Linked DNA regions of Homo sapiens: regions 2, 3 and 4 are each linked to region 1. Evidence: fine-mapped expression QTL. A gene starts in region 1. Each other region holds a variant in brackets. All regions are shown on one strand. Distances are from middle to middle.

Region 1 (7,892 bases):
TTAAAAAAAAAAACTAGTCTCTAGATACATACATTGCTCCCATTAGAATTATTTTTCCCTGCATATCCTATTTTTTTCTAAATTCTTAAACATCATAGAACATTCTATATGACAAACCATAAAATCAGACGAACAAACTGTAAAACATAAATCACATTTCTGTTTCTTCTGTTTTAGTTAATACATTGTAAATTTGTCCTCAAGATAGAAACTACAATCAAAGAAATTCTATTAATGCCATCTAGTGGAGAAATACGCATTACCAAGTCAGATTATGTCTCTCCAATTTTGAATCCTCCTTGATGTGGGGATGAGATACAAGTGGGAGTGATATGGGGAAGGGAGAATGTTTCCACATACAACACTTGACAAATGCTACTGTATGAGAACTAAACCTGTATATATACTTCAGGGCTGTTCTTACTGATATAGAATATTGTGGGGTTTTTCACTGTTTTCGTTATTGGGTTCTTCCCCCTTCCATCTGTTTAATATAATTGCCCTCTTCATTTTTCTCTATCTATTAATCAGTTACCAACAAAAACAAGTAGTAAAAATGAAACAAACTAGTGTGGTTCTATAAATGTCTAAAACAATTTGACTATACGAAAAATAGAAGCCTAGGATAATAGGGCAGGAGGTAGAGGGAGTCATTCAGAAATATGCGAAGTCTTTAACAGCTTTAAGTAAACAATTTCAGAACTTGAAAACAATTATCTGAAAAAGTATAAATGAAAATGTTAATCATGTTTTTATATTGCCCAAAAAGTAACAAATAAAATGTTCCCTTTCTAGTTTTAGGAAAACTATGTTCAAACAAAAGAAACTTTTCCTAAAATAAACCTCACCAGACCAGTTTCATATGGCTTTGCTACCTCAGAATTTAAGTCAAAAATCTTAAGGCTAACATTTATACACTTGAATACTTTCTTCCTAAAGCAACTACAAATAGACAACAAAACTACAAATTTAAAACATTTGGGAAGAAAAGCGTTGCATAAACTGACAAAAACCTCCTATACAAACAGCAAATATTTTCAAAAGAATTTTTGATTTCTAGTTCTAGCATACAAGAATATAACTTGTTTGGGTTCAGAATAAAAATATCATGTACATATTTTAGTTCTTATATACTCCTGTGAAAAAACACCCCTTATCTAAAACTGCATCCTCTCATTCCGCATTATTTTTCTTCATAGCATGAACTGATAACTAACATTATAGTATATGCTTAGTTGTTTATTATGTTTCTCCCTTTAGAGCAAGCAGGGACTTTTTGCTCATTAATGTGTTCCAATAACCCAGAATAGTGCCTGGCACACAGTAAATGGTCCATAAGAATGCATTGTGGAATAAATGCATTAGCAAGAACCAGTTTATAAAAATAGTGTCAAATAAAAATAATTTTCTGTTAATTTAGAAACTTAAAATTTGAGCCCCAATCTTCAACGTTCAGTTAAAAAATGTGAAATTTTTTTCTAGTTCAGGATTTATGTAAATAAAATCATGAAGGTTCTAAAAGATGATGAATTTGGCACTTTCATTATGTAAATCTTTTTTTAAAAAAGAAACACAGGTCCTAAAAGGGACCTTGCTACAGTTCAGTATGAGTTTGTGATGTGAGGGGATGCTATTTTAAATTAATTAAAGTTCTAGGTTTAGATTCAGATTTTTTAAGTTCCTATTATTTATTATTAAAGTTTTAGTTTCAGCACGTGGCACAAAATTAGATTGCCAAACACAATAAACAATATCATCCCAGGTAGTTTTAAGTGTCTGCTCTGCTATAATCACTGTTAAAATACTTAAGCTATTTTTGAGTCTACATAATTTGCGGTGCCGACCTTCTCTAGTTATATTAATGACAATCTCTAGTTAAATATTAATACAACTAGATACAATTAATCTTTAGTTATATTAATGACAATTCACCATTTTGTCTTCTGTAATCTTTACTTATTGTATAAAATTATTGTATACAATTATTGTATAAACTTATTGTATAAAATTGCAGGCCTATTACTTCTTACAATTTTTACTCAGAAACATACTCCTTATTTTAAAAGTACAGAAACTCAGATAAAAATTATTGATTTGCTAGAAATTTTTGTGAGTTAAGGAAGAAGTAGGGACCAACATTTACGGGAATAACCGACCGTCACAAATAACTGCAGAGAATCTGACAAAGAAGGAAAAATCAACGGGAACAAATTACTCCGAGGCTCGGCCTGGGAAAGGACCATACAATTGTCGGAGCCCCAGATCTCACCCCCTCTCCCCAGGCACCAACAGGGCTGGCTGGAAGGGTCCGGCTGGGGACCGAATCAGCACCTAAAGCAAAATAACAGCTCTGTGGATTTCCTAAGGAGAATATCCTAAATCCAAGGCAGAGGCCTTAGGGCCCCGAGAGTGGCACAAGAACGGGGCGCTGGGGCGCGTCACTCCACCCCCCGGGTCCCGTTTCCTCCCACCGCTGTGAAACCCGCGGCTCAGACAGATGGGTACGTCCCCCCCAGCGCTCGCTCAGGGGGCGCCACACACCGGAACACAAGACACAGGAACCGAACACCAATCAGCCGACTTTAGGGGCGGGCCGGACGCCCAGCCGGTCCCACCTCGCGGGGAGCTGGGCCCGCCCTGCGCCCGAGCGCGCCGCAGGCCTCACCGCTTTCTGACTGGAAATGCGGCTGAGGCGCTGGCGCGGGCCGGCGGCCTGGAGACGCCTGGTGACCAACAACTCGCCGCGCCCGTCCGCTGCCTGCCCGGCAGACGGCTCTAGAGATCGACCGCTGCCCGGACGGCTCGGCTGGGTCCCCACTTCCCCGCGGGCGTCGGGCCCCCGTCCCCACCTTCCCCGCGGGCGTCCGGGCCCCTCTCCTCACCTCCCTGCGGACAGCTCCTAGGCCAGTCGAGCGCCGATTTATCAGCCCCTCTGAGGACCGCCAAGCCTGGCTAAGCCGAGCTCCAAGCAATGGATCGCCCAAGCCCCCAACCTCTCCCTTCCTACCTTTTTTTCTCCGAAAGTTTATAACTGGTTTTGAATATATCTCTTGCAGTTTACTGTGTCTATTCTCTTTAAATACAGCTCCTAATCCTGGGTTCTAAGGGTCTACTAAATGGTACCCTTTCCCTAAGCTAACCTGCTTCTCTACCCCCACAACCACCACTCCACAAACATACCCCAACCTGCCTTTCTCATCAAAGTTAGCCAGGCCTCAGCTCTGGGACTTCCGGTCTCTTCGTACCTAAAAAGTGTTTTACCTATATTATTTATAAAATATCACAGTGGCACTCATGAGGTCGGTATTACTGGGGAACTTGATTCAGAAATAAAGTTAAATTTCAGAAATAAATATTCTAAAACACAATGATATTTAAATGTGTTTAGCCAACATGAATTTATAAAAACAGGGCAATAATGTGTTCTTAGGCTGTAAACATGAACAAACTATAAATTATCCTTTTAAGTTTCTTTAGAATTGTCCTCTGAAGATTTGGCAGGGAATGTTTTGTAGATGATAAAATAGCAACGAATCAATGATGCTTTTCTTACAGAGACATTTATCTTTCCTTTGGAAACCCCCACCTGTGACATCTAGGGCCAACCTACTGCTGTCTGACTGCCCTATTCCTGTTCTCTTTTTTCTTGCAGTTCTACTGTTCATTAGCTATATGACCTTGGAAAAGACCCAACCTTTAAGTCTTAATTCTGCATCCTCAGTGATACTCATAAGCTCTAACTCCTAGATACTGCTGCAAGGGTTAAATAAAATAATATTTGCAGTAGTCCTACCACACAGTAAATGCTCATGAATATTAATTTCTTTCACCTTCTCTGAAATGTAAAATTATTCCAGTAATTGGGTGAGCCAGTTATTTGGATACTGATAAAATAACAAGTCTTTGTCTCTTGGAGAAAATAACATTTTGACTGCATAAACTATTCTTAATAGAAAGGTTGAATTATCATTCCTCTCAAAAATACTGGAGAGGAAAGTTACTTTCCATAGACTGCATAGAGGAAAATAACGAAACAGTGCATTTGTTATAGTGAACCCCTCAATGTGTTGAAATTCATACATTGAATTCTAACCCCCGATGTGATGATATTTGAACGTGGGACTTTTGTGAGGTAATTAACTCAAAAGGGTAGAGCCTTCATGAGTAGGATTGTGCCCTTTTAAGAGGCCAGAGAGTTAGCTCGCTCTTTTCCTACCATGTGAGGATACAGGAGGACGGTATCTGCAAGCCAGGAAGGAGGCCCTCGCCAAATACCGGATCTGCCTGCACTGTGATCTTGGACTTCTCAGGCACCAAAATTGTGACAAATGTTTGTTGTTTAAGCCACCCAGCCTATGGTAATTTGTTATAGCAGCTTGAACTAAGATAGGGTTTGAGTGATAGAATTGTAGAATTCAGCAACAGGCAGGTACAGGGGAGTCTTACTGTCAAAGCACACAGTAGCAAATGGCCACCATGTTCATAAACAAAAACATTCATTCATTCACTCACTCATTTATTCAAGAATGCATGTGGAATCTATAGAGCCTTACTTTCTCTTAAAATAATGTAATAAAAATGTCAAAGCTGCAGTTTTTAAAAGGAAGCCTCAGGACAGTGATAAAGTTACTAAAAATCCCATTTTGGGGGGAGGGATTACCATGGTTTTTAGTAATGTTGCCACATTTCTCAAGAAAACATTTTAATCCTAAAGATTTAATTTTACAACCAGTGCAACAATGTCATAAGCAATCCTCCAAATTGAATAACATAACTAACATTTGAAATATAGTCTTCCCGGTCAACTTCTGGCATGACTGCATAAAGAGCTTTGCTACCTCACTTCTCAGTGAAACTGGTGAAAATTCTAGAAAAATGACTCAGACCCTCTGGAAATGATCCTAAGGGCAAACAGCAAAAGAAGAAACATCTTTTCAAGAAAGAGATACAAAAATTTGGTAAGAAAGGCAAGGCTCTGTGGTATTTTATCCAAGACTCCCAAGTTCCAGCTTAGCAAGACAGGCTCCATTCTAGACAGCTGCAGCCAAGAATACAGAGCTCTCTCTGCACCCAGCTCCCACTAGAAGGCGCGCTTTCTTTCTTTCATTGTGGTAAAACATGCGTAATATTTATAATTTTAACCATATATAAGTGTATAATTCAGGGACATTAAATACACTCATAGTGTTGTATAACCATCACTCTTATCCATACCCAAAACTTTTTCATTATCCCCAACAAGAAATTTGTGCCCATTCAGGGAGGGGAACTTCACACACTGGGGCCCGTTGGGGGGTGAGGGGCTGGGGGAAGGATAGCATTGGGAGAAATACTTAATGTAAATGACGAGTTGATGGGTGCAGCAAACCGACATGGCACATGTATATCTATGTAACAAACCTGCACGTTGTGCACATGTACCCCAAAACTTAAAGTATAAGAAAAAAAAAAAGAAATTTCTGCCCATTAAACAGGAACTCCTTCTTTTCCCCTTTCCCTAATTCCTGGTAACCTCTATTCTACTTTCTATTTCTATGAGTTTACCTATCCTAAGTACTTCATATAAGTGGGATCATACAATATTTGTTCTTCTATTTCTGGATTATTCACTTAGCATAATGTTTTCAATGTTCATCCATGTTGTAGCATGGATCAGAATTTTACTCCTTTTTAAGGCTCAATAATATTCTATTGTATTTATATACCACATTTTGTTTATCCATTTGTAATCCTGGCTAAGGGACATTTGAGTTGTTTCCACATTTCCACCTTTTGGCTATTGTGAATAATGCTTCTATGAACATTCGTGTGTAAATATCTCCGTTCAAGTCCCTGCTTTCAATTCCTTTGGATATGTACCTAGGAGTGGAATTGCTGGGACATATGGTAATGCTATTACAGCCAATGCCATGAGTTCTAGCTGATGTATCCAACATAACCAAAATTTTCTTCACTTTGTAACATCCACATCTTTTACACCCTGATTAGTCAGTAGAAATTGATATTGAAAAATTAGTCTCAGGCTGGGCAACACAGCGAGACTTCATCTCTACCAAAATTTTAAAAACTAACCAGGTGTGGTGGTGTGTGCCTGTAGTCCTAGCTGCTTGGCAGGCTGAGGCAGGAGAATGGCTTGAACCAAGGAATTCCAGGCTGCAGTGAGCTGTGATCCCACTACTGCACTCCAACCTGGGCAATAGAGCAAGATCCTGTATCTAAAAAAGCAAGAAAGAAAAAAGAAAAATTAGTGTTGATGGCTCTAGAGAAGCAGGAACCAAGAAATGTTGAGGTTTCAAGACTATTTTTCTGCAGATGACAGCCAGAAATGTGTTGTGTTTTTTATTGTCAGATTTGGACAAGAAACAGTGAAGAGATCATTTGGGAAGAATCTGAGAATTACAAAATTAATTTCTGAGAAAAAAACAGAAAAAAAGGAAATAAAGGTAGTTTGATATGATGGGATTCTCAGGAGGAAAGAAAAGTTTAGGGAGTTAGGGCCAATTCAGTAGATACTTAAATAACAAAAGGAAGACTGAATTAAGCACAAACCAAAAAAAAAAAATCTTTCTGTTCTTTCTTTCTTTTTCTTTGTTTCTCTTTTCTTTCTTTCTTTCTCTTTTCTCTCTTCCTCCCTTCCTCCCCTTCCTTCCTTCCCTCCCTCCCTCCCTTCTTTTTTCCCCTTCCTTCCTTTCTTTCCCTCTTTCTTTCTCTTTCTTTTCCTTCTTTCTTTCCTTCCTTCCTTCTTTCCTTCTTTCTTTCTTTCTTTCTTTCTTTCTTTCTTTCTTTCTTTCTTTCTTTCTTTTTCTTTCTTTCTTCAGGGTCTTGCTCTGTTGCCCAAGCTAGAGGGCAATTATGTGATGCCTCACTGTAACCTCATGGCTCACCATAACCTCAACCTCCTGGGCTCAAGCAACCCTCCTGCCTTAGCCTCCCAAGTAGCTGGGACCACACATACATACCACCACACCACACCCTGCTAATTTTTTAAAAATTATTTTTATTTTTTGTAGAGATGAGGTCTTGCTATGTTACCCAGGCTGGTCTCAAACTCGTTGCCTCAAGCAATCCGCCCACCTTGACCTCCCAAAGTGCTCAAACAGAAAAACAAGTGGCTTTGAAGAAATATATTAGTACCAGTATAAACATTACTGGTGTGAGCCACCATGCCTGGCCAGGATAATTTTTCTTTAGGAAAGATTTAGTAAGTATGTATGTAACCAAGAACATAATGACATAAATTGATTAGAAAGCAATTCCTTGAGTTCCAAATGGCTAAGGAGAGTGTTTAATGGTGTTGTATAAGATCCTATACTCTTATTTCAGGAAATCTGTTTTTTTTTTTCTTTTCAGGCAGAAATTGACTCCTCCTACCAAAATGAATTTAAAATATTTTCTGCTCTCCAAAGTCAAGAATCTTGATCCTAATAGAACTGCCAGACAGGGTGTTCCAATTAGGCCTAGAAGCAATGCACCATACAACGACAGCCAGCTAAGGTATATTACAAAGAACATAAGCTTTCCATAGAAATCAGTTGAGAAAGATTCAGCATTCAATGGCTGTTCTTTGTACTTGACTGTATAAGTAGATTCTAAAATGTGTTAACACAAACCCTGAACTAGGAAGCAAATATCCCAGTATATAAACTTGAGGACAAAGGGAAATATTCCACAACAGCATAGATTATTTCCTAAGTAAAAATTAATGCCAGTTTCTTCAGGAAGAGTATGTGGGGACTCATAACCAGTGTATGCATGTTTTATGGTTAGTTGTATTCAGGTTTGTGAGGCAAACTATACATACTTCACATTGAGTATACTAGGTTTAGTCATTCTTAGCAAATTCTTTTGCCATTATTATAAAGTCCCCGTATAAATAAGAATTAACAATTAAC
Region 2 (7,892 bases), 50 kb before region 1:
TTCCAAGAGTATAGCTGTAAATATCACTTTGGTTTCAATGTAACATAATTTTGGCAATGTTAAAATCAAAACAAACTTTGGTAACTGTATAAAAGTTGTAAGATTTGGTATAATTTACATATAATCTGATTTACTCTATGAAATTGTAGAACTGTACAACATAATATTTACAAATGTTTTGAAAATATAATCTTCCTGATGTTCCCATAATACCTATAAAAATGACTTATTCATGTATTTGTCAGAGTAGGGTATGTTTTGAAATGTATTTGGACTTTTGTCATAATTCCTGGGAACACAATTAGCATTTAGTGCTAGGACCTAGGGATGTTTCATGTTCTGTAATGTGACAGCCCTAAGCAAGGAAAACCTGTTCCATCCAAAATGCTAAGAGTACCCCCATTCAGAATTTAAAAAAAAAAAAAAACAGTCAAAATCAAAAAGACCTTTAACAGCATACCCATTCATAAACCCATCCCCTCATCAGCCAAGACAAGCTTAGACAGAATGAAGGAAGTATGTCCCAGTTGGTGAGGCTTGTCTTACTTTTATTCCTCCACTAAAGGTAAATTTTCTCTGCTATATTACTTTTAAGCCTGATACAATTATGACATGCTAATCAAAAAATACACAATTTTTTTGTTTTTATCATGTTTTTAAGTATAAAAAGCAAAGTTATTGTCACTTACTTGAGGTCGACCAGCTCTACCAATCATCTGTAGAATATCTGTTTCACTGTACTCTTCAAACAGTCCTCCAGCATAATGCATTGTAGATTTTATAACTACTAGGTGAGCAGGCAAATTTACTCCCATAGCTAAAGTACTGGTAGTAACTGCATCAGATTAAGACATAGTAATTTTGAGCCATTTAACTTTGTTGCTTCAGGAACATTTTTTAATAAAAGACATTCTTATAAATGTAATAAAAACTCATACATAAGAAATTTAGAAAAGAAAAAAGAGCATTACAATCTAAAATAGTAACACACCTTAAATCCAAAAACCTATTAAATTCTTGTTTTTCAAATTACACCATGTTCAACAATATGATAAAGAACTAAACACTACCAAAGAATTTACTGTAGCATCTACATGCATAGGTAACCACTTAATTTTATATTCTCAGAAGAAAAGCAGAAACAAGCAGAACACTTGCGCTTTTTCCTTTTTTCCTCTTAAAAATAATTTTCCAAAATATTTTATAGTATCCACGAGAAATATGTTTTACTTACAAAGAACTGGTAAATCTCCAACAGTAAAAGCTCCCTCAACTACTTTTCTATCTGACAGCTCCATACCAGCATGATGATAAGCAGCACCATCTTTTAAGATATCTGTAATAGAAATATATCAGCTGTTACTATTAATATTTCATCAATAATTGGCACCTTTCATCTATATGTGAAAATGCTATTCAAAAATTATCTCTAAACCTACCTCTCAGTTTTGAATCTCTTACGGAATATGCATACTTCTGTAACCTATTTAAAAATACCATAAAATTATTGAGTTACTCCCAGTAACATTAGAGAACTCTGAAACAGTTTATTATTTTAAAACTTAGAGATATCAAAAAATTTTCACAATATCATTATCTGAAAACTATTTTAAGAAGTAGAAAATATCCAACTTTCATATTCAAAAGTCCCTAAACTTATGAGCTACAATATTAAAGCTCACTTTTAAACCAAGAATTTGGAAAACTCACTTTCCCCAAGAAAACAACATAATTGGTGATTAACAAGTCAGTATAAAAGTCTACTCTCATAATTTGCCTAAAAAAAATTATAAGAAGTAACCATTTCTAAAACTACTATATTACTAGTAAATAAGCAAAAAAAAAAAAAAAAAAAACATGGAAATAAACCATAGTGTTTCCAGTGCTCTGAGACATGGCATTTAAAAAAACTAGGTTAGGAGGAAGCAAGATGGTCAACTAGAGATGCCTAATGCTCATCTTCCCCACAAAAAAGAGCAAAACAATGAATAAACAACTAACTACATTTTGAACAGAATGACTAAAGGAAAGTGCCTCTCTATAAATTTGAAAGAGGTGATTATTCCACTAGTTGTGCAGACATCAATAGAGGGACACAGGAAACATGAAAAAAAAAAAAAACCAACCAAAAAACCAGGAAATACACCACCAACAAAGGAACGCAATAATTCTCCAGTAACTGATTCCAAAAAACAGAAATTTGTAAACTGTCTGAAAAGGAGTTCAAAGTAATGATCCTAAGAAAACTCACTGAGATACAAGAGAATACAGATAGACAGGTCAATGAAATCAGGAAAACAATTCATTATCTGCACAAGAAAGTTATTCAAAAAGAACCAAACAGAAATCTTGGAGCTAAAGAATTAAATGAATGAAATCAAAAATAGAGAGCTTCAACAGCAAACCAAAACAAGCAGAAGAAAGAATCTGTGAAATGAAGTTAGGTTTCTGAAATAGCCTAGTCAGAGGGAAAAAAAAGAAAGAGAAAAGAACAAAAAAGAGTGAACAAAGCCTATAGGACTTATGGGACACCATTAAGCAAACAAGTATTCATATTATGGAGGTTCCAGAAGGAGAAGAATGAGGAAAAGGCATAGAAAGTTTATTTAATAAAATAATTGCTGAAAACTTCCCAAGTCTTGGGAGAGACATGGACATCCAGTTCCATGAATCTCAAAATCACCAAACACGTTCAAACCCAAAAAGGTCCTCACTGAGGCACATTATAACCAAAATGTGGAAAGTCAAAGACAAAGAGAGAATTTTAAAAGTAGCAAGAGAAAAGTGTCAAGTGATTTATAGGGGAATCTCCATTAGACTATCAGTGTTTCTCAGCAGAAACCTTGCAGGCCAGGAGAGCATGAGATGATACATTCAAAGTCCTGAAAGAAGACAATATTGCCAGTAAACAATACTATACAAAGCAAAGCTGTTCATCAGAAATGAGGAGAAATAAAGTCTCAGCCAGATAAATAAAAGCTGAAGAAATTCACCACTAGACCTGCCTTATAAGAAATGATTAAAGCAGTTCTTCTACCAGATACAAAAGAATGATAATTAGTATCATGAAAACATATGAAAGCATAAAACACACTGGTAGAGGTAAATACACAGTCAAATTCAGAATGTGCCACCACTGTAATGGTGGTGTGCAAATCTTTCAAATCTCTATTATGAAGGTGAAAAATCAAAATAGTCAAAAATACAGCTACAATGAGTTGTTAAGGAATACTGAATATAAAAAGATGTAAACTGTGTCAACAAACATAAATTGTGGGGGGAGGGCAAAAATCTAGAGTAGTTGTATGTGACTGAAGTTCAGTTTAAAATAGTCTATTATAACTCTAAGATATTTTACGTAAGCCTTGTGGTAACTGCAAAGCAAGAAGCTACAGAAGATACAGATGAGAAAGAGAAAGGAATCAAAGCTTAGCGCTACAGAAAAACAACAAATCACAAACTTATACAACAAGAGGAAGAAAGGAACAACTGATCTACCAAGCAACCAGAAAACAATTAAAATGGCAGGAGTAAGTCCTTATCTATCAATAATAACCCTGAAGGCAAATGAATTAAATTCTCCAATCAAGACATATAGTGTCTAAATTGATAGAAGAAAAAAAAAAAACCAAGATCCAACTACATGCTGCCTACCAGAGATCCATCTTAGCTATAAGGACACCGGCTGAAAGTTAAGGGGTAAAAGAAAATATTCTACATAAATAGTAACCAAAAGAGAGCAGGGTGGCTATTCTTACATCAGTTAAAATGACTTTAAGTCAAAAACTGTTACAAGAGGCAAAGAAGGTCATAATTTAACGACAAAGGGGTCAATTCATCAAGAGCACATAAGAATTGTAAATATATAAGCACCCAACACTGAAGCATAACATATATATAAAACATTATTAAAGGACATGAAGAGAGAAATAGACAACAATACAATAATAGGAGGGGTCTTCAATATCCCACTTTCAATAATGATAGATTAACCAGACCGAAAGTTAACAAAGAAATACTGGACTTGAATTGTACTTTGAGTCAAATGGACCTAACAGACAAATATAGAACTTTGCATTCAATAGCAGCAGAATGTATACGCTTCTCTAGAGCATACGAAACATTCTAC[A/G]GGACAGATCATACATTAAGCCACAAAACTAGATTTAACTATTTTTAATTAATCTAAATTCAAGACGATTGAAATCATATGTAGTATCATTTCTGACCACAACAATATGAAACTAGAAATCAATAACAGGAAAAATCTTGAAAAAAATCACAAGTATGTGGAAACTAAACAACATGCTCCTAAACAATCAATGGTCAAAGAAACCAAAAGGGAAATTAAAAAATATCTTGAGACAAGTAACAATGGAAAGACAACACACCAAAACCTATGAGATGCAGCAAAAGTGGTTCTAAGAGGAATTTTTTTTTTTTTTTTGAGACAGAGTTTCACTCTTGTTGCCTAGGCTGGAGTGCAATGGCATGATCTCGGCTCACTGCAACCTATGCCTCCCAGGTTCAAGCGATTCTCCTGCCTCAGCCTCCTGAGTAGCTGGGATTACAGGCATGTACCACCACGCCTGGCTAATTTTGTATTTTTAGTAGAGACATGGTTTCCCCATGTTGGTCAGGCTGGTCTTGAACTCAAGAGGAAATTTTATGCAATAAGTGCCTATATTAAAAAAAGAAGATACTAAATAGACAGCCTAACATTATACCTACAGGAGCTAGCAAAAGAACAAACTAAATGCAAAGTTAGCAGAAGAAAGGAAATAATAAAGATCAGAACAGAAATAAATCAAATAGAGATCCACCAAAAAAACATAGAAAATGATCAATAAAACCAAGACTTGGTTCTTTGAAAAAATAAAATAAACAAATATCTAGCTAGACTAAGGAAAAAAAAAGAAGAAACAAATAAAATAAAAAATGAAACTGGAGAAATCACCAACAGATGCCTCAGAAATCAAAGAGATCATAAGGGGCTATTATGAACAATTATATATTAATACTAACAAATTGGATAACCTACAGGAAATGGACAAACTCCTAGAAAAATACAACCTGCTAAGTTTGAATCAGGAAGAAATAGAAAGCTTAAACAGACCAATAACACATAATGAGATTGAAGTAGTAATGAAGAATCTTCCAACAAGGAAAAGCCCAGAACCAGACAGCATCACAACTGAATTCTACCAAACATTCAAAGAAGAATTACCACCAATACTTCATAAACTATTCCAAAAAATACAGCTACAGGGAATACTTCCAAACATATTTTGTGAGGCTACTATCACGTTGATACCTAGGCCACATAAAGACACTACAAGAAAACTATAGGCTAGTATCTCTGATGAATATTGATGCAAAAATCCTCAATAAAATATATGCAAACTGAATTCAACAACACATCAAAAAGGATTATACACCATGGCCAAGTGGATTTATTCCTGGCAAGCAAGGCTGGTTTAATATATGCCAATCAACCACTGTGATATATCACATTAACAGAATGAAAGATAAAAAACACAAGACCATCTCAATTGGTGCAGAAAAAGCATTTGACAGCAAGTTCAACATCCTTTCTTGATAAAATCTCTTAACACGCAGGCATATAAGGAAAACTTCTCAACTAATGTAACAAAGGCCATTTATGAAAAGCCCACAGCCAACATCATAATCAATGGGGAACAACTGAAAGCTTTTCCACCAAGATACAGTACAAGGCAGGGATGCCCACTCTCACTGCTTCTATTCAACACAGTACTGGAAGTACTACCAAGAGCAATCAGATAAGAAAAAAATAAAAGGAATTCAAATTTGAAAGGAAGAAGTAAAACTATCTTTATTTGCAGACAACATTATCTTACATGTAAAAAAACCTCAAAGATTCATTAAAAAACTGTTAGAACTAATAATTCAGTAAAGTTGCAGGATTCAAAATCCATATACAGAGATTAGTAGCATTTTTAAACAAAAATAATAATTTAACTGAAAAAGAAATCTAGAAAACAATCCCAGTTATGACAGCATAAAAAAATAAAATGCTTAGGAATAAGTTTAATTAAGGAGGTAAAAGATCTGTACACTGAAAGCTATCAAACAATGGTGACAGAAATCCAAGACAAAAATAAATGGAAAGATATCCTGTGTTGATGGATTGAAAGAATTAATATTGTTAAAATGTCCATACTACCCAAAGAAGTACAGATTCAATACAATCCCTATCAAAATTCCAATGGCATCCTTCACAGAAATAGAAGAAAAAATCATAAAATTAACTTTGGGATGCCGAGATGGGTGGATCACAAGGTCAGGAGATCAAGACTATCCTGGCTAACATGGTGAAACCCCATCTCTACTAAAAATACAAATGGTGTGAACCTGGGAGGCGGACCTTGCAGTGAGCCGAGATCGCGCCACTGCACTCCAGCCTGGGCAACAGAGCAAGACTCCATCTCAAAAAAAAAATTTTTTTTCATAAAATTAGTATGGAACCACAATAAACCCTGGATAGTGACAGCAAAACTGAGAAGGAAAAGAAAGTTGGAGCTACACACTTTCTGATTTAAAATTATACTACAAAGCTGGACTAACCAAAACAATATAGTACTTGCATAAAAACAGAAACACAGACCAATGGAACAGAACAGAGAGCCCAGAAATAAGTCCAAACATACACAGTCAACTAATTTTCCATTAGGGCACCAAAAAAAATGGGGAAACAATAGTTTCTTCTATAAATGAGGCTGGAAAAACAATTTCCATATCCAAAAGAATAAAATTGCACCCTTATACCATACACAAAAATCAACTCAAAAATTGACAAAAGATCTAAATGTAAGACCTGAAATCATAAAACTCCCAGAAGAGAACATAGGGCAAAGCACCTTGATATTGGCCTTGGCAATGCAGCACACCTGCTCTACCAAAAAAACAGTCAGACTGTTTCTTTGGGGGGGTCCCTGATCCTGTTCCACTGACTGGGTGAGACATCCCAACTGGGGTTTCCAGCCACCTCCTAAAGGTACATGCAGACTGGCAACAGGTCAGTACTCCCTGGGGATGGAGCTTCTAGAGGAAGTAGCTGGCTGTCATCTTTGCTGTTTCACAGTCTTCACTGGTGATATTTCCAGGTACGGGAGAAACTGAGGCAACTAGGGTTTGGAGCAGATCCCCAGCAAACTGCGGCAGCTCTACAGTAGAGTGGCCTGTTAAAAGCAAAACAAACAGAAAACACCACCACCAACAACAAAAAAGATCCCATAAAAACCTCATTCAAAGGTCAGCAACATCAAAGATCAAAGGTAGATAAGCCCACAAAGATGAGAAAGAGTCAACGTAAAAACACTGAAAACTGAAAAAGCCATAGTGTCTCTTCTCCTAATGACTGTAACATTTCTCCAGCTAAGAACTGGGCTGGAGGCTGAGATGGCTGAATCGACAGAAGTAGGCTACAGAAGGTGGGTAATAACAAACTTCACTGAGCTAAAGGAGCATGTTATAACCTAATGCAAAAAAAGGTAAGAACCATGGTAAAACAGTACAGGAGCTGATAGCCAGAACAGCCAGTTTAGAGAGGAACATAACTGATCTGATGGAGGTGAGAAACACAACACGAGAACTTCACAATGCAATCGCAAGTATCAATAACAGAATAGACCAAATGGAGGAAAGAATCTCTGAGCTAGAAGATTATCTTTCTGAAATAAGACAGGCAGACAAGAATACAAAAAAAAAAAAAAAGGAAGAAGAAGAATGAAAAGGAATGAACAAAACCTCCAAGAAATATGGGATTAAGTAAAGAAACCAAACTTACAACTGACTGGTACCTGAAAGAAACAGGGAGAACAAAACCACACTGGAAAACATACTTCAAGAGAACT
Region 3 (7,892 bases), 100 kb before region 1:
ACAAACAGAGCCAAATCATGAGTGAACTCCCATTCACAATTGCTTCAAAGAGAATAAAATACCTAGGAATCCAACTTACAAGGGATGTGAAGGACCTCTTCAAGGAGAACTACAAACCACTGCTCAATGAAATAAAAGAAGATACAAACAAATGGAAGAACATTCCATGCTCATGGGTAGGAAGAATCAATATCATGAAAATGGCCATACTGCCCAAGGTAATTTATAGATACAATGCCATCCCCATCAAGCTACAAATGACTTTCTTCACAGAATTGGAAAAAACTACTTTAAAGTTCACATGGAACCGAAAAAGAGCCCGCATTGCCAAGTCAATTCTATGCCAAAAGAACAAAGCTGGAGGCATCACACTACCTGACTTCAAACTATACTACAAGGCTACAGTAACCAAAACAGCATGATACTGGTACCAAAACAGAGATATAGACCAATGGAACAGAACAGAGCCCTCAGAAATAATGCCACATATCTACAACCATCTGATCTTTGACAAACCTGAGAAAAACAAGAAATGGGGAAAGGATTCCCTATTTAATAAATGGTGCTGGGAAAACTGGCTAGCCATATATAGAAAGCTGAAACTGGATCCCTTCCTTACACCTTATACAAAAATTAATTCAAGATGCATTAAAGACTTAAATGTTAGACCTAAAACCATAAAAACCCTAGAAGAAAACCTAGGCAATACCATTCAGGACATAGGCATGGGCAAGGACTTCATGTCTAAAACATTAAAAGCAATGGCAACAAAAGCCAAACTTGACAAATGGGATCTAATTAAAGAGCTTCTGTACAGCAAAAGAAACTACCATCAGAGTGAATAGGCAGCCTACAGAATGGGAGAAAATTTTTGCAATCTACTCATCTGACAAAGGGCTAATATCCAGAATCTACAATGAACTCAAACAAATTTACAAGAAAATATCAAACAACCCCATCAAAAAGTGGTTCGTGAAGGATATGAACAGACACTTCTCAAAAGAAGACATTTATGCAGCCAAAAGACACATGAGAAAATGCTCATCATGATTGGCCATCAGAGAAATGCAAATCAAAACCACAATGAGATACCATCTCACACCAGTTAGAATGGTGATCATTAAAAAGTCAGGAAACAACAGGTGCTGGAGAGGATGTGGAGAAATAGGAACACTTTTACGCTGTTGGTGGGACTGTAAACTAGTTCAACCATTGTGGAAGTCAGTGTGGCGATTCCTCAGGGATCTAGAACTAGAAATACCATTTGACCCAACAATCCCATTATTGGGTATATATCCAAAGGATTATAAAACATGCTGCTATAAAGACACATGCACACGTATGTTTATTGTGGCCCTATTCACAATAGCAAAGACTTGGAACCAACCCAAATGTCCAACAATGATAGACTGGATTAAGACAATGTGGCACATATACACCAGGGAATACTATGCAGCTATAAAAAATGATGAGTTCATGTCCTTTGTAGGGACATGGATGACGCTGGAAACCATCATTCTCAGCAAACTATCGCAAGGACAAAAAACCAAACACTGCATGTTCTTACTCATAGGTGGAATTGAACAATGAGAACACATAGACACAGGAAGTGGAACATCACACTCTGGGGCCTGTTGTGGGGTGGGGGGGAGGGGGAAGGGATAGCATTAGGAGATATACCTAATGTTAAATGATGAGTTAATGGGTGCAGCACACCAACATGGCACATGTATACATATGTAACAAACCCGCACGTTGTGCACATGTACCCTAAAAGTATAATTTAAAATTAAAATAAAATAAAATAAAATTATAATTTATCCTTTTTGCTGGTATACAGGAATACAATGGACTTTTAAATTTCTTAATTAAATTATAATTCATACCATACCATTCACATTTTTAAACTGTACAATTCAGTGGGTTTTTAGTATATTCCCAAGGTTGTGCAACAGTCATCATATAATTCCAGAACACTGTCATCACCATACATACAAAAAACCCACCATATAACTATTATTAGTCATTCCTCATTTATTCCTGCCCTCAACCCCTGACAACCACTAATCTACTTTATGTCTCTATAGATTTACCTGTTCTAGACACTTCATATAAATTGAACCATACAATATCTGGTCTTCTGTGACTAGCTTCTATCTAGCATGTTTTCAAGGCTCATCCGTGCTGTAGCATGCATCAGTAGTTTTTCTTTTTGGCTGAATAATATTCCATTGTATGGATATACCACATTTTGCTTATCTATTCATCAGTTGATAGATATTTGGGTTGTTTCCAGTTTGGGCTATTATAAATAATGCAGCTATATACATTCATGTCTAAGTTTTTGTATGAATATGTTTTCAATTCTTTTGGATATACACCTAGGAGTACAATTGCTGTATCATATGTTAATTCTATGTTAAATTTCTTGAGGAAATACCAACTGTTTTTCAAAGCAGTGCACAATTTTACATTCCCACTAGCAGTGTATGAGGGTTCCAGTTTCTCCATATCCTTATCAACACATGTTATTGTCCATCATTTTGACTAAAGCCACCCTACTGAGTGGGAAGTGGTATCTTACTGTGGTTTTGGTTTGCATTTCTGCATTGACTAACAATGTAGAGCATCTTTTCATATGTGTGTTGACCATTTGTATCACTTCTTTGGAAAATGTCTATGCAGATCCCTTGACTAGTTTTATTTTTATTTTATTTTTGAGACAAAGTCTCACTCTGTCACCCAGGTTGGAGTGCAGTGGCATGATCTTGGCTCACTGCAACCTCTACCTCCTGAGTTCAAGCAATTCTTCCACCTCACCTTCCACTCAATCCTGAGTAGGTGGGATTACAGGCGTGCACCAACACGCCTGGCTAATTTTTGTATTTTTAGTAGAGATGGGGTTTCACCATATTGGCCAGGGTGGTCTTGAACTCCTGACCTCAAGTGATCTACCCGCCTCGGCCTCCCAAAGTGTTGGGATTACAGATGTGAGCCACTGTGCCCGGCCCCTTGACTAGTTTTAATTGGGCTATTTGTCTTTTTACTGTTGAAGTGTAAGATTTCTTTATATATACTCAATACAAGTTAGTTATCAGATATATATGATTTGCAAGTATTTTCTCCCATTCCGTGGGTTGTCTTTTCACTTTCTGAATAGTGTCCTCTGAAGCACAAAAGTTTTCATCTTAAGTCCAATTCATCTATTTTTTCTTTGGTTACTTGAGCTTTATATGTCATACCTAAGAAACTGTTGCCTTGTACAAGGTAATGAATGAAGATATACACCTATGTTTTCTTTTAAGAGTTTTATAGGTTTTTGTTTGTTTGTTTGTTTTTGAGACAGAGTTTCGCTCTTGTTGCCCAGGCTGGAGTGCAATGGAGCGATCTTGGCTCACTGCAACCTCCGCCTCCTGGGTTCAAGCGATTCTCTTGCCTCACCCTCCTGAGTAGCTGGGATTACAGGGGCCCATCACCACAGCCGGCTA[ATT/A]TTTTTTTTTTTTTTTGTATTTTTAGTAGAGACAGAGTTTCACTATGTTGGCCAAGCTGGTCTTGAACTCTTGACCTCAGGTGATCCACCCACCTCAGCCTCCCAAAGTGCTGGGATTACTGGTGTTAGCCACTGCACCTGGCGAGTTTTATAGTTTTAAGTTTTACCTTTAGGTCTTTGATTCATTTTGAGTTAATTTTTGTATATGGTATGAGGTAGGAGTCCAAATTCATCCTTTTGCATGTGTCTATGCAGTTGCCCAGCCCTATTACTTGAAAAATTATTTTCAAATTCTTTTACCATCAAATTGTTTTGGCATCCTTGTCAAAAATAAACTGGCAGAGAGGTAAAGGTTTATTTCTACACTCTCAGTTGTATTCCATTGATCTTTATGTCTATTATTATGACAGCACCACCTTGTCTTAATCACTGCAGCTTTGTAACAAGTTTTGAAACCAAGAATTGTGAGTCCTCTACCTTCCTTCTTTTTCTTTTCAAGGTTGGCTTAGCTATTCTGGGTCCCTTGTATTTCCACGTGAATTTTAGGATCAGCCTGTGAATTTCTGCAAAAACTACAGCTAGGATTTTGATACAGACTTTGTTGAATTTATGAATTAATATGAGAAGTGCTGCCATCTTAACAATATTGACTTTCAATCCACGAACATAAAATATTTTTCAATTTATTTAGAACTTCTTTAATTTATTTCAATGGTGTTTTGTAGTTTTCAGTGTTCACTTCTTACACTTTTTTGTTCAATTTATTCCTAAGTATTTTATTCTTTTTGATGCTATTGTACAATTGTTTTTTATATTGACTGCATTCAGTGATATTTCTAAACATATTAATTCCAACAGCATGTCTATAGAGTCTTTTGGATTTTCTCTATAAATAATCATGTTGCTTAGAAATAATGACAATTTATTTATTTCTTTTTTTTTCTTTTTTTTGAGACAAGGTCTCACTCTGTTGCCCAGGCTGGAGTGGAGTGGTGTAATCATAGCTCACTGTAACTTCGAACACCTGGACTCAAGTGATCTTCCCATTTCAGCCTCCAGAGGAGCTGGGTCTACAGGCAAGCACCACCACACCTGGCTACTTTTTTCTATTTTTGTAAAGATGGAGTTTCACACTGTTGCCCAGGCTTGTCTTGAACTCCTGGACTCAAGTGATCCTCCTACCTCGGCCTCCCAAAGTTCTGGGATTATAGGTATGAGCCACTGCACCCAGCCCCCTTTTTGCTTTTTTAAAGTATTATTATATTACTAAGACTTCCAGCACAATGTCGAATAGAAATAATAACACAGAGCATTCTTGTAACATTCTCCAACTCAATAGGAAAGTGTTTAATATTTTACTATCGAGTATGACATTTGCTATAGTTTTTGTAGATATTCTTTATATTTAAGAAGTTCCAGGCCAGGCGTGGTGGCTCACCCTGTAATCCCAGCACTTTGGGAGGCCAAGGCAGGCAGATTACCTGAGGTTGGGAGTTCAAGACCAGCCTGACCAACACGGAGAAATCCCATCTCTACTAAAAATACAAAATTAGCTGGGCGTGGTGGTGCATGCCTGTAATCCCAGCACTCGGGAGGCTGAGACAGGAGAATAGCTTGAACCTGGGAGGTGGAGATTATGGTGAGCCGAGATTGCACCATTGCACTCTAGCCTGGGCAACAAGGGTGAAACTCTGTCTCAAAAACAAAAACAAAACAAAACAAAAGAAGTTCCCTTCTATTTCTAGTTTGCTAAGAGTTTTTTTAAATCATAAATGAGTACTGAATTTTGTCAAACTTTTTTGACACCTATCAAGAGGATCAAATCATTTTCTCCTTTTTCTCTGTTAACATAGTGAATTATATTGATCTACTTTTGAATGGTAAGCCTCTCCTGCATACATGCAATAAACCATACTTAATTGTGCTTTTAAAAAATATGGCCAAATTCAGCTTGTGAATATTTCATTAAAGACTTTTGGATCTATGTTCATGAGATATGTTGCTAAATAATTTCCCTTTCTTTTTAATGTCCTTGTCAGGTTTTGACACACTGGCCTCATTAAAAAAACAAAACATTAGAAAATATTCTCTTTTTTTCTATTCTCTGGAAAAGTTTAGGTAAGTTTGATATTATTTCTTCTTAATTAAGAAAAATTAACAGTGAAGTCATCCATGCCTCAAGTTTTCTTTGTGGAAAAATTTTTACTAACAATTGCTTCAATTTCATTACTAGTATCAGACTACTCAGATTTTATTTTCTTCTGTCAGTTTTGGTAAGCTTTGCTTCTCAATAAATATTCTCATTTTAACCCAAACTATGTCAAATTTATCATTATAAAATTGTTAATGTCTTGTTTTTGTGCTTTTGAATATCTTCAGTAACTTTTTGATATACAATGTAATATCCTCTTCTTCATTCTTGATATTGTTACTTGTGTTTTCTTTCTTTCTCTTGATCAGTCTTCATTCATAGAGGGTTCTTAATTTTATTTATCTTTTCTAAGAACCAAATCTCAGCTTTGTTGATTTTTCTCTGTTGTATATTTACATCCTATGTATCGCTGATTTCTGTTTTTCTCTTGTTACATTATTATGTTTGATATGGTATACTCTTGAGATGCAAGCTTGTATTTTTTTGCTTTGCATTTTATTTCCACATATATTTTAAACTCTGTAAGTCATTTCAATTACTGTTTTACATAGTCTACTTATATTTAGTCATATAGTTATCCTTTCTACTCTTCTTCATTCCCCCCAGCATGTCCATGTTTTCATCTGTGATCATTTTCCTCTAAGGAAATCCCTTTAGTATTTATTTTATTTTATTTTTTATTTTGAGACAGGGTCTCGCTCTGTTACCCAGGCTGGAGTGCAGTAGTGTGATCTCAGCTCACTGCAGCCTCAACTTCCCAGGGTCAAATGATCCTCCCACCTCAGCCTCCCAAGTAGCTGGGACCACTGGTGCACATCACCACACTCACTAATTTTTTTTAACTTTTTGTAGAGACAGGGTTTCACCACATTGCCTAGGCTGGTCTTGAACTCCTGGGCTCAAGCGATCTGCCCATCTTGGCCTCCCAAAGTGCTGGGATTATAGGCATGAGCCACTAAGCCTGGCCTTAGTATTCATTTTAATTCAGGCTGATAAATATACTAGTAGTGATAAAGTCATTTAGTTATTTTCTTTCTCTTTCTTCCTCTTTCTTTCTCTTCTTTCTCTTCTTTCTTTTTTCACTTTCATCATGAAGGATATTTTCCACTGGGCAGAAACCTAGGTTGGTAGCATTTTGAATATGACATTCCATTGTCTTCTGTTTTCCATCATTATTGTTGAGAAGTTAGCTGTCAGTTTCACTGTTGTTATTTTGAAGGTAATGCATAAATGATGTGTCTAATTTTAACATTTTCAGCAGTTTTGCTACAATATGTCCAGGTGTGGTTTTCCCTGTATTTGCCTCTGTTTGGGGTTTACCAAAATTCTAAATCTGTTGGTTGGTGTCTTTTATTATTTTGAAATGGACTCTGCCATTGTCTCTTTGAATGTTAATTTTGTCCCATTCTCTCTCTACTCTGCTTCTGGGACTTTAATTATGCATATGTTAGACCTTTTTTTGAGTATTATATTCCTTTGTGTTCTTTCCATTCTCTTATCTCTGGGCTTCAATTTAGATATTTTCTACTGATATGTCTCAAAGCCCACAAATCCTATATTTGGTTATATTGAATCTAATGTTAAGCCTACCCAACTAGCTCTTCATTTCAGATATCGCATTTTTAATTCTAGAAAGTCCATTTAAATCTCTTTATAGATTTTAATTATCTGGTAAAACTTTCCATCTTTTCATGCATTTACCTATTTTTTCTATATTTTCTTTAAAATATTCATAATTATTTTATACTTTTTTTAAAGAGATGTGGTCTTGCTATGTGGTCCAGGCTGGAGTGCAGTGGTAAATTCACAGACATGATCATAGTGCACTACAGCCTCAAACTCCTGGGCTCAAGAAATCCTCCTGCCTTAGCCTCCTGAATATCTAGGACTACCAGTGTGTGTCACCATGTCTGGCTTGTTTCTTGACACAGTTGATTATCAGTCATATGGTCTTATCTCTTTGTGGGCCTCACAATTTTTTTATCATATGACAGACACTGTGTCTGTGGTTTCCAGATTACATTTCACCAGAAGAAGTTTCCCTTTCCCTCTGTCAGGCAAACATGGTGAGTGGCTGATCATGTAAACCCCTTTACAGGGCATGGTCTACCTAGCCTTTTTATTAAGAATTTAGTTCCTTTAGTCCTTAGTGCTTCCACAAATCTCTGATGCCCTAAAAATTATAATTTTATAAGGTATGAAGGTTTTCATAGTTGTAGCTGTGGAAGCACTGGCCTACCACAAAACTAT
Region 4 (7,892 bases), 32 kb before region 1:
TCAAATAGACGCAATAAAAAATGATAAAGGGGATATAGCCACCGATCCCACAGAAATACAAACTACCATCAGAGAATACTATAAACACCTCTACGCAAATAAACTAGAAAATCTAGAAGAAATGGATAAATTCCTCAACACATACACCCTCCCAAGACTAACCCAGGAGAAGTTGAATCTCTGAATAGACCAATAACAGGCTCTAAAATTGAGGCAATAATTAATAGCTTACCAACCAAAAAAAGTCCAGGACCAGATGGATTCACAGCCGAATTCTACCAGAGGTACAAGGAGGAGTTGTTACCATTCCTTCTGAAACTATTCCAATCAATAGAAAAAGAGGGAATCCTCCCTAACGCATTTTATGAGGCCAGCATCATCCTGATACCAAAGCCTGGCAGAGACACAACAAAAAAAGAGAATTTTAGACCAATATCCCTGATGAACATCGATGCAAAAATCCTCAATAAAATACTGGCAAACCAAATCCAGCAGCACATCAAAAAGCTTGTCCACCATGATCAAGTGGGCTTCATCCCTGGGATGCAAGCCTGGTTCAACACACGAAAATCAATACACGTAATCCAGCATATAAACAGAACCAAAGACAAAAACCACATGATTATCTCAATAGATGCAGAAAAGGCCTTTGACAAAATTCAACAACCCTTCATGCTAAAAACTCTCAATAAATTAGGTATTGATTGGATGTATCTCAAAATAATAAGAGCTATCTATGACAAACCCACAGCCAATATCATACTGAATGGGCAAAAACTGGAAGCATTCCCTTTGAAAACTGGCACAAGATAGGGATGCCCTCTCTCACCACTCCTATTCAACATAGTGTTGGAAGTTCTGGCCAGGGCAATCAGGCAGGAGAAAGAAATAAAGGGTATTCAATTAGGAAAAGAGGAAGTCAAATTGTCCCTGTTTGCAGAAGACATGATTGTATATTTAGAAAACCCCATGTTCCCAGCGCAAAATCTCCTTAAGCTGATAGATAACTTCAGCAAAGTCTCAGGATACAAAATCAATGTACAAAAATCACAAGCATTCTTATACACCAATAACAGACAAACAGAGAGCCAAATCATGAGTGAACTCCCATTCACAATTGCTTCAAAGAGAATAAAATACTTAGGAATCCAACTTACAAGGGATGTGAAGGACCTCTTCAAGGAGAACTACAAACCACTGCTCAAGGAAATAAAAGAGGATACAAACAAATGGAAGAACATTCCATGCTCATGGGTAGGAAGAATCAATATCCTGAAAATGGCCATACTGCCCAAGGTAATTTATAGATTCAATGCCATCCCCATCAAGCTACAAATGACTTTCTTCACAGAATTGGAAAAAACTACTTTAAAGTTCACATGGAACCGAAAAAGAGCCCGCATTGCCAAGTCAATTCTATGCCAAAAGAACAAAGCTGGAGGCATCACACTACCTGACTTCAAACTATACTACAAGGCTACAGTAACCAAAACAGCATGATACTGGTACCAAAACAGAGATATAGACCAATGGAACAGAACAGAGCCCTCAGAAATAATGCCACATATCTACAACCATCTGATCTTTGACAAACCTGAGAAAAACAAGAAATGGGGAAAGGATTCCCTATTTAATAAATGGTGCTGGGAAAACTGGCTAGCCATATATAGAAAGCTGAAACTGGATCCCTTCCTTACACCTTATACAAAAATTAATTCAAGATGCATTAAAGACTTAAATGTTAGACCTAAAACCATAAAAACCCTAGAAGAAAACCTAGGCAATACCATTCAGGACATAGGCATGGGCAAGGACTTCATGTCTAAAACATTAAAAGCAATGGCAACAAAAGCCAAACTTGACAAATGGGATCTAATTAAAGAGCTTCTGTACAGCAAAAGAAACTACCATCAGAGTGAATAGGCAGCCTACAGAATGGGAGAAAATTTTTGCCATCTACTCATCTGACAAAGGGCTAATATCCAGAATCTACAATGAACTCAAACAAATTTACAAGAAAAAAACAAACAACCCCAACAAAAAGTGGGTGAAGGATATGAACAGACACTTCTCAAAAGAAGACATTTATGCAGCCAACAGACACATGAAAAAATGCTCATCATCACTGGCCATCAGAGAAATGAAAATCAAAACCACAATGAGATACCATCTCACACCAGTTAGAATGGTGATCATTAAAAAGTCAGGAAACAACAGGTGCTGGAGAGGATGTGGAGAAATAGGAACACTTTTACACTGTTGGTGGGACTGTAAACTAGTTCAACCATTGTGGAAGTCATTGTGGCGATTCCTCGGGGATCTACAACTAGAAATACCATTTGATCCAGCCATCCCATTACTGGGTATATACCCAAAGGATTACAAATCATGCTGCTATAAAGGCACATGTGCACGTGTGTTTATTGAGGCACTATTCACAATAGCAAAGACTTGGAACCAACCCAAATGTCCAACAATGATAGACTGGATTAAGAAAATGTGGCACATGTACACCATGGAATACTATGCAGCCATAAAAAATGATGAGTTATGTCCTTTGTAGGGACATGGATGAACCTGGAAACTATCATTCGCAGCAAACTATCGCAAGGACAAAAAACCAAACACCACATGTTCTCATTCATAGGTGGGAATTGAACAATGAGAACACATGGACACAGGAAGGGGAACATCACACACTGGGGCCTGTTGTGGGTGGGGTGAATGGGGAGGGATAGCATTAGGAGATATCCCTAATGTTAAATGATGAGTTAATGGGTGCAGCACACCAACACCACATGTATACATATGTAACAAAACTGCACGTTGTGCACATGTACCCTAAAACTTAAAGTATAATAAAAAAAAGAAAATTCATAAGAATGCTATAAAACTACATGCAGTTGGTATGAAAATTATTAATCATTTTTTGATGGTATTCTTATTAGCAATAATTTCACTTTCTCCCTTTCTTTCTACCTCTCAGACTTCATCTACTTTTTGACTGTGAGCTCTTTGTTGGTTTTTCTCATTCTGTCTTGCTCTCTACTGTTTCTTATTGCTTAATCTTGCTTTGTTGACGTGTATTATAAAAGAACTACTCTACATGCTTCACACCCTAGAGATTTTTTTTCATATGGTAGTAACTAAGAAGATCAAGTTAAATCCTTTAAATGGAAGGAAAAGTGTCAAAATAGTATCTAGAGGGTGAATAAGTGGCTATGTTTGTAATTCTTTAATAGACTATCTTTATAGTCTACCTTTTTAGTGGAT[T/TAA]AAAAAAAAACAAAGAATGTAAAGAAGACTAAATTGGCTCCTCTAGGCTTGCTACATATCTTTGGTTGACAAGCAACCAGAGGTGGTGGCAAAGGAACAGACTGGTAATTGGAAAGCTGATCTGACCCAAAGCGGAGAGAAGTATATTCCCCCACCATACAAAATTAGGCAGAAAAAATAAGTATCTGCTCATATCCACATGTCCAATTTTAGTCTGAGGTCTACCACTAAACATATTTACTGATTTCCAGAAGTTATTAACAATAATAATAAGTTAATGTTCATTACATAGTAATCATGTGCTAGCACTCTGCTGAGACCTTCTGCTATAATTTGGATGCTGTCCATTTAAATCTCATGCTAAATTGTAATCTCCAGTATTGAAGGTGAGGCCTGGTAGGAGGTGAATGGATCATGGGGGCAGATCCTCATGGCTTGGTGCTATTCTTACAATAGTGAGTGAGTTTTTGTGACATCTAGTTGCTTAAAAGTGTATGGTACCCCCCGACCCCTACTCCTGCTCTCACCATGTGATACACCAACTCATCCTTTGCCTTCTGCCATGACTGTAAGCAGCCCAAGGCCTCACCAGAAGCCGAGCAGATGTGGTGCCATGTTTCTTGTACAGCCTGCAAAACTGTGAGCCAATTAAACCTCCCTTCTTTATAAATTACCCAGGCTCAGAAATTTCTTTATATCAATGCAAGAATGACCTAATACACCTGCTAAGATTGAGTGGTAAGCAGGATGAACATGAGTCCCCCTTTCCTCAAGAAGTTGATAATCTAATTAATAGAAAAGATATTAAAATAACTATTAAACAAAAGGATATTATAATTATAGTAAGTGCTATGAAATCAAGTACAGGTTGCTTATAAAAGTAAATACAGGGAAACTGATGGCTATGGAAAACTGATATTAAAGTTTAGACATGAAGGATAAATAGGAGTTAGGTGAAAACCATTCCAGTAAAAGCAAGCACCATGCAAGACAATGCTGTACAGAGTAACAGTTTGGTGTATTCACAGAACACAGAGGCTAATACAGCTTGACCGTGATGATTAAAGGGGGAGAATGGTCATGAAAAGTCTGGAGAATTGGCTAGGCATCACATTACATGGGCTACTGCAGGCTACACTAAGGATTTAGCATTTAATCCCCAGAACAATAAGAATCTATTAAAGGGTTTTAGGCAGGAAACTGCCATTTAGATTTGCAATCTTACACAATCTATGCTATGTAGAGAATAAAGCTGGATAAGAGAGTGTGTGTGTAGTGATTAAAGAAAAGGATACAGCCTAGGCAAGAGATTACTAGTGACTTGAATTAGGGAAGTGGCAGTGTTGATGGAGACAAAATGACATATTTGAGATATATTTAGAAGTAAGAATAAACAGGACTTCGTAATTGATTGTGGGGTATAAGGTGAAGAAGATATCAATCATAGTTTTCTGCTATGAGTAACTAAGGAGATAATGTATAATTAAGATGGGGAACACTGGAGAAGGAGCTGGTCTGAGAGCAAGAACCAAGGTTCTATTTGGTACATAGTGAGTTTGAGATAACTGTTGGTAGACATACAACTGGATTCAGTTACACAGATGGACTATAGGCCTGGAGCTCAGTAAGGAAGTCTGGGCCGAAGGCATAAATGTGGGAATTCATAGACATGCATAAATATTATCTGAACTTCATGTGAGTACTTACAAACACCTAAGAGTGTGGCATTAGAAAGAATGAACCTCAGGTATACTCACTCGAATGTCAACATTTAAGAGTTGGGTAGAAGAGGTGAAAAGGGGACTGAGAACGAACAGCCTGCAAAGGAGGAAGAAAATCAGTAGAAATGATCATGGAAGCACAGAGTCCAGAGTGTTTAAGTAAGGTGGAAGTGGCCAAATATGATAGAGAGTCCTTAAAGATTAATTCGCAAGATCAGCTTTAGTGAAAGACTATAAAAGATGCTGGATTGAAATTAGGTTAAAAAAAATAGATAGTAGTATGGATAATCTTTATCATTCAAGAAATCTGGATCACCCCTGTACGAAGATTCACTATCTCACTTAATCCTCAAAATTATCATTATCCTTATTTTATAGATGAGGACACTGAGGTTTACCCCAAGGTTATGGGACAAGCCTAATTTTCTCATGTCATCTAGATGAGCCCTAAAAGTCCTTCTACTTCCATGAAAAAATAAAATACTATACCTCTGTTTCTGTTCCACAGTCATAATAAATTTAGCATCTTTCACAAGAACAGAAGCAGCCTGTTGCACACCCTTCCTTGTTGCACAAAACTGAAAATAAATTCATAACGTTTGTATTAATCATGTTAAAAACTGAATATACTAAAAAATAAGCTATCAACAATCCATACCACAAGTGTGGGTTTCTGATCAGAGTACATTTGTATAACACTGGCAATTTTGTAGTTGAGGGTTAAATCAAACTTAAACTCAGTTTGGTTACTACTGCAGGGAAATCCAAGGACCACTTTCTGAAGTTTCACTGGTCTATGGCTCTCATCCATTTTCAGACACACAGCTGGTCTTTCACCATCTGAAAGCCATTCTGCAATCTTTGAAACACAAAAATATGTGCATTAAAATTTTCTTCTAGTAAAGTTTTATTGCTAAAAACAACCCAATTACAAAGCACTTTAAGGTCAAGCTATAAAAGTATTTAATCAAGTATGCTGTCTTTTTCAATATTACATATTCCATTAATATTATTCTGTTGATATAGTGGTCAACACTACCAATAGTAGTATTTCAAGATTATACCCACTTTTCACCATGGTAAACTTCCAATTAATTATTATTATTTTGTTTTATTTTCCTTCATAAGAATCCAAAGAAAAATTATCAATTTTGTCATAGAGGCCAAATTTCTCACTATTATTTTAACTTCTTTGCTATTTTTGAAAACTACGCCTCAAAATGGCTGACATCTCTTTTGTGTTGTCCTAAATATTAGATAAATAGCAGCAAATTAATAGTTGGTTTAGGTTGGCAAGGGTTGACAAGTTTTTAAGCAAACAACAAACACTTGAGAGATGCCAGTGCCAAAAGCAAACTTCAGACTCAAGCTAGATTCTGGAACTGTGGTAAGCAATCCTTATCTTTACATAGCCCAGTTAATAATCAGGCTCCATGCTCTGCTATGAAATTGACTGTTGTTTTGACAGGTAGAAAACATTAAAATAATCTCAAGGTTATCATGAGTAGGGATAAGATCACATAAGAATTTACAGACAGAGGGGAGCAGAAGGCCAAGAATAAAAACCTTAATTTAGGGAAAAACGGAGGAAGAAGATCTGACAAAAGAGACAGAAACAGCATTCACACAAGTAGTGTTTATCACAAAGGGGAAAAGTTTCAAGAATTAGACAGTACTAGTACATAATAATTGCTTACAAATAAGTTAAGAAAAATTTAGTATTCCAATGTGAAAAAAAGGCAAATGACATAACCTGGCAAGTTTTAAAAAAAGAACTCAAAGTAGTTGATAAATATATTTAAAATTTTACCTTAGTAGAAATCAAAGAAGTAAAAAATTTTTAAATGAGATACTACACTCAACAATAAATCCTATAAATATTTAAAAATAATAATAGCAATAATAATTCCATTATTATACTATCCAGTGTTAGGATACAGGAAAATAGCCTCTGGTAGAAGTGTAAATGAATATAACATTTATTGAAAGAAGCACTTCTTTAGAGTTTTATATATCCTTTGATTCAGTTAATTCATTCTAGAAGTTCATCCTAAGGAAATAATCATGGATGTTTCAGATACATTAATTTCACTGTTTACAATAGCAAAAATTGGAAATAACTTAATCTTCCATTGTTATAGTGTTTGATAAATAAATTACAATAAAACCACAAAAATAGTATTGAAGAATATTTAATGATATAAAAATGTTTAAAGGTGAAATGCAGGTCAAAAAAAGAGTATGTACATTATGATTCCTACATGCTTACAAAAAAAAGTATGTACATTATGCTTCCTACATGTGTAAAGATAAACGCTAGGATTTAGTTTTGTTGTTGTAATAAACTTTAAATTTTTCTATATTATTCTTGAAAAATATGAACAAAACAAGTTGTCATTTCAAGAACAAGAAAATGATTAATTGTGCCAAATTAACGATAAAGACAAAATATTCCATTGGAATAGACAATATAGTGGCTATTTGTGAAAACAATTTCTAAGAAGTAGTAGGGGAAAACCAGTATTATAGTAGGCTGAGAAGTAAGTAGGAGTGAGAAAGTAGAGTGAGACTATTATTTTTCAAGACGTTTACTTAAAAATTGAAGAAAAAATTAAGTCATATATTCATTATGGAAAGTATAATAGTGCACATGATTATTTCTTTACATGTCCATGTACCCCATTAACCATGAGATCCTCCTCAAGGACGGAGTCCATATATTTTCACTTTTGCATCTATATTTAGTGCTTACCACAATGCCAAGCATACAGAATTGAGGAGCAAGTGGTAATCATCTAAGCAATTATTTTTATTCTCCACCATACTTTGCTATACAATTAGAGTCAGCTAGTTACAACAACCATCACATATTGTTAGTGAAGTTACTATGAGGCACCT

Direction of the effects. Alleles are on the strand shown, and positions count from the first base shown. SD is a standard deviation of normalised expression in the study named. Not every link is listed here.
With allele A in place of G in region 2, the expression in prefrontal cortex of the gene that starts at base 2,922 in region 1 is higher (moderate effect, 0.55 SD a copy in GTEx).
With allele TAA in place of T in region 4, the expression in subcutaneous fat of the gene that starts at base 2,922 in region 1 is lower (moderate effect, 0.69 SD a copy in FUSION).

The links. PIP is the estimated chance that this variant, and not a neighbour inherited with it, causes the effect. A credible set is the group of variants that fine-mapping cannot tell apart.
Region 2: its variant is the best candidate, but not a certain one, in a credible set for the expression of HFM1 in prefrontal cortex (GTEx, PIP 0.84).
Region 3: its variant is the best candidate, but not a certain one, in a credible set for the expression of HFM1 in subcutaneous fat (FUSION, PIP 0.62).
Region 4: its variant is the best candidate, but not a certain one, in a credible set for the expression of HFM1 in subcutaneous fat (FUSION, PIP 0.64).

The regions. Positions count from the first base shown.
Region 1 is chr1:91,401,916-91,409,807 of GRCh38, forward strand. It overlaps HFM1 (helicase for meiosis 1), which reads right to left and starts at 2,922. Exons shown (of 39, transcript NM_001017975.6): 1 at 2,883-2,922. RefSeq lists a silencer at 2,517-2,896.
Region 2 is chr1:91,351,817-91,359,708 of GRCh38, forward strand. It overlaps HFM1 (helicase for meiosis 1), which reads right to left. Exons shown (of 39, transcript NM_001017975.6): 14 at 1,440-1,483; 15 at 1,235-1,336; 16 at 690-835. Among named protein-coding and RNA genes, the nearest start is that of HFM1, 49 kb to the right of the region's middle. The variant A/G (reference allele first, on the strand shown) is at 4,130.
Region 3 is chr1:91,301,145-91,309,036 of GRCh38, forward strand. All of the region lies in intron 30 of HFM1 (helicase for meiosis 1), which reads right to left. Among named protein-coding and RNA genes, the nearest start is that of HFM1, 100 kb to the right of the region's middle. The variant ATT/A (reference allele first, on the strand shown) is at 3,489.
Region 4 is chr1:91,369,875-91,377,766 of GRCh38, forward strand. HFM1 (helicase for meiosis 1) reads right to left here. Exons shown (of 39, transcript NM_001017975.6): 12 at 5,653-5,853; 13 at 5,484-5,572. Among named protein-coding and RNA genes, the nearest start is that of HFM1, 31 kb to the right of the region's middle. The variant T/TAA (reference allele first, on the strand shown) is at 3,274.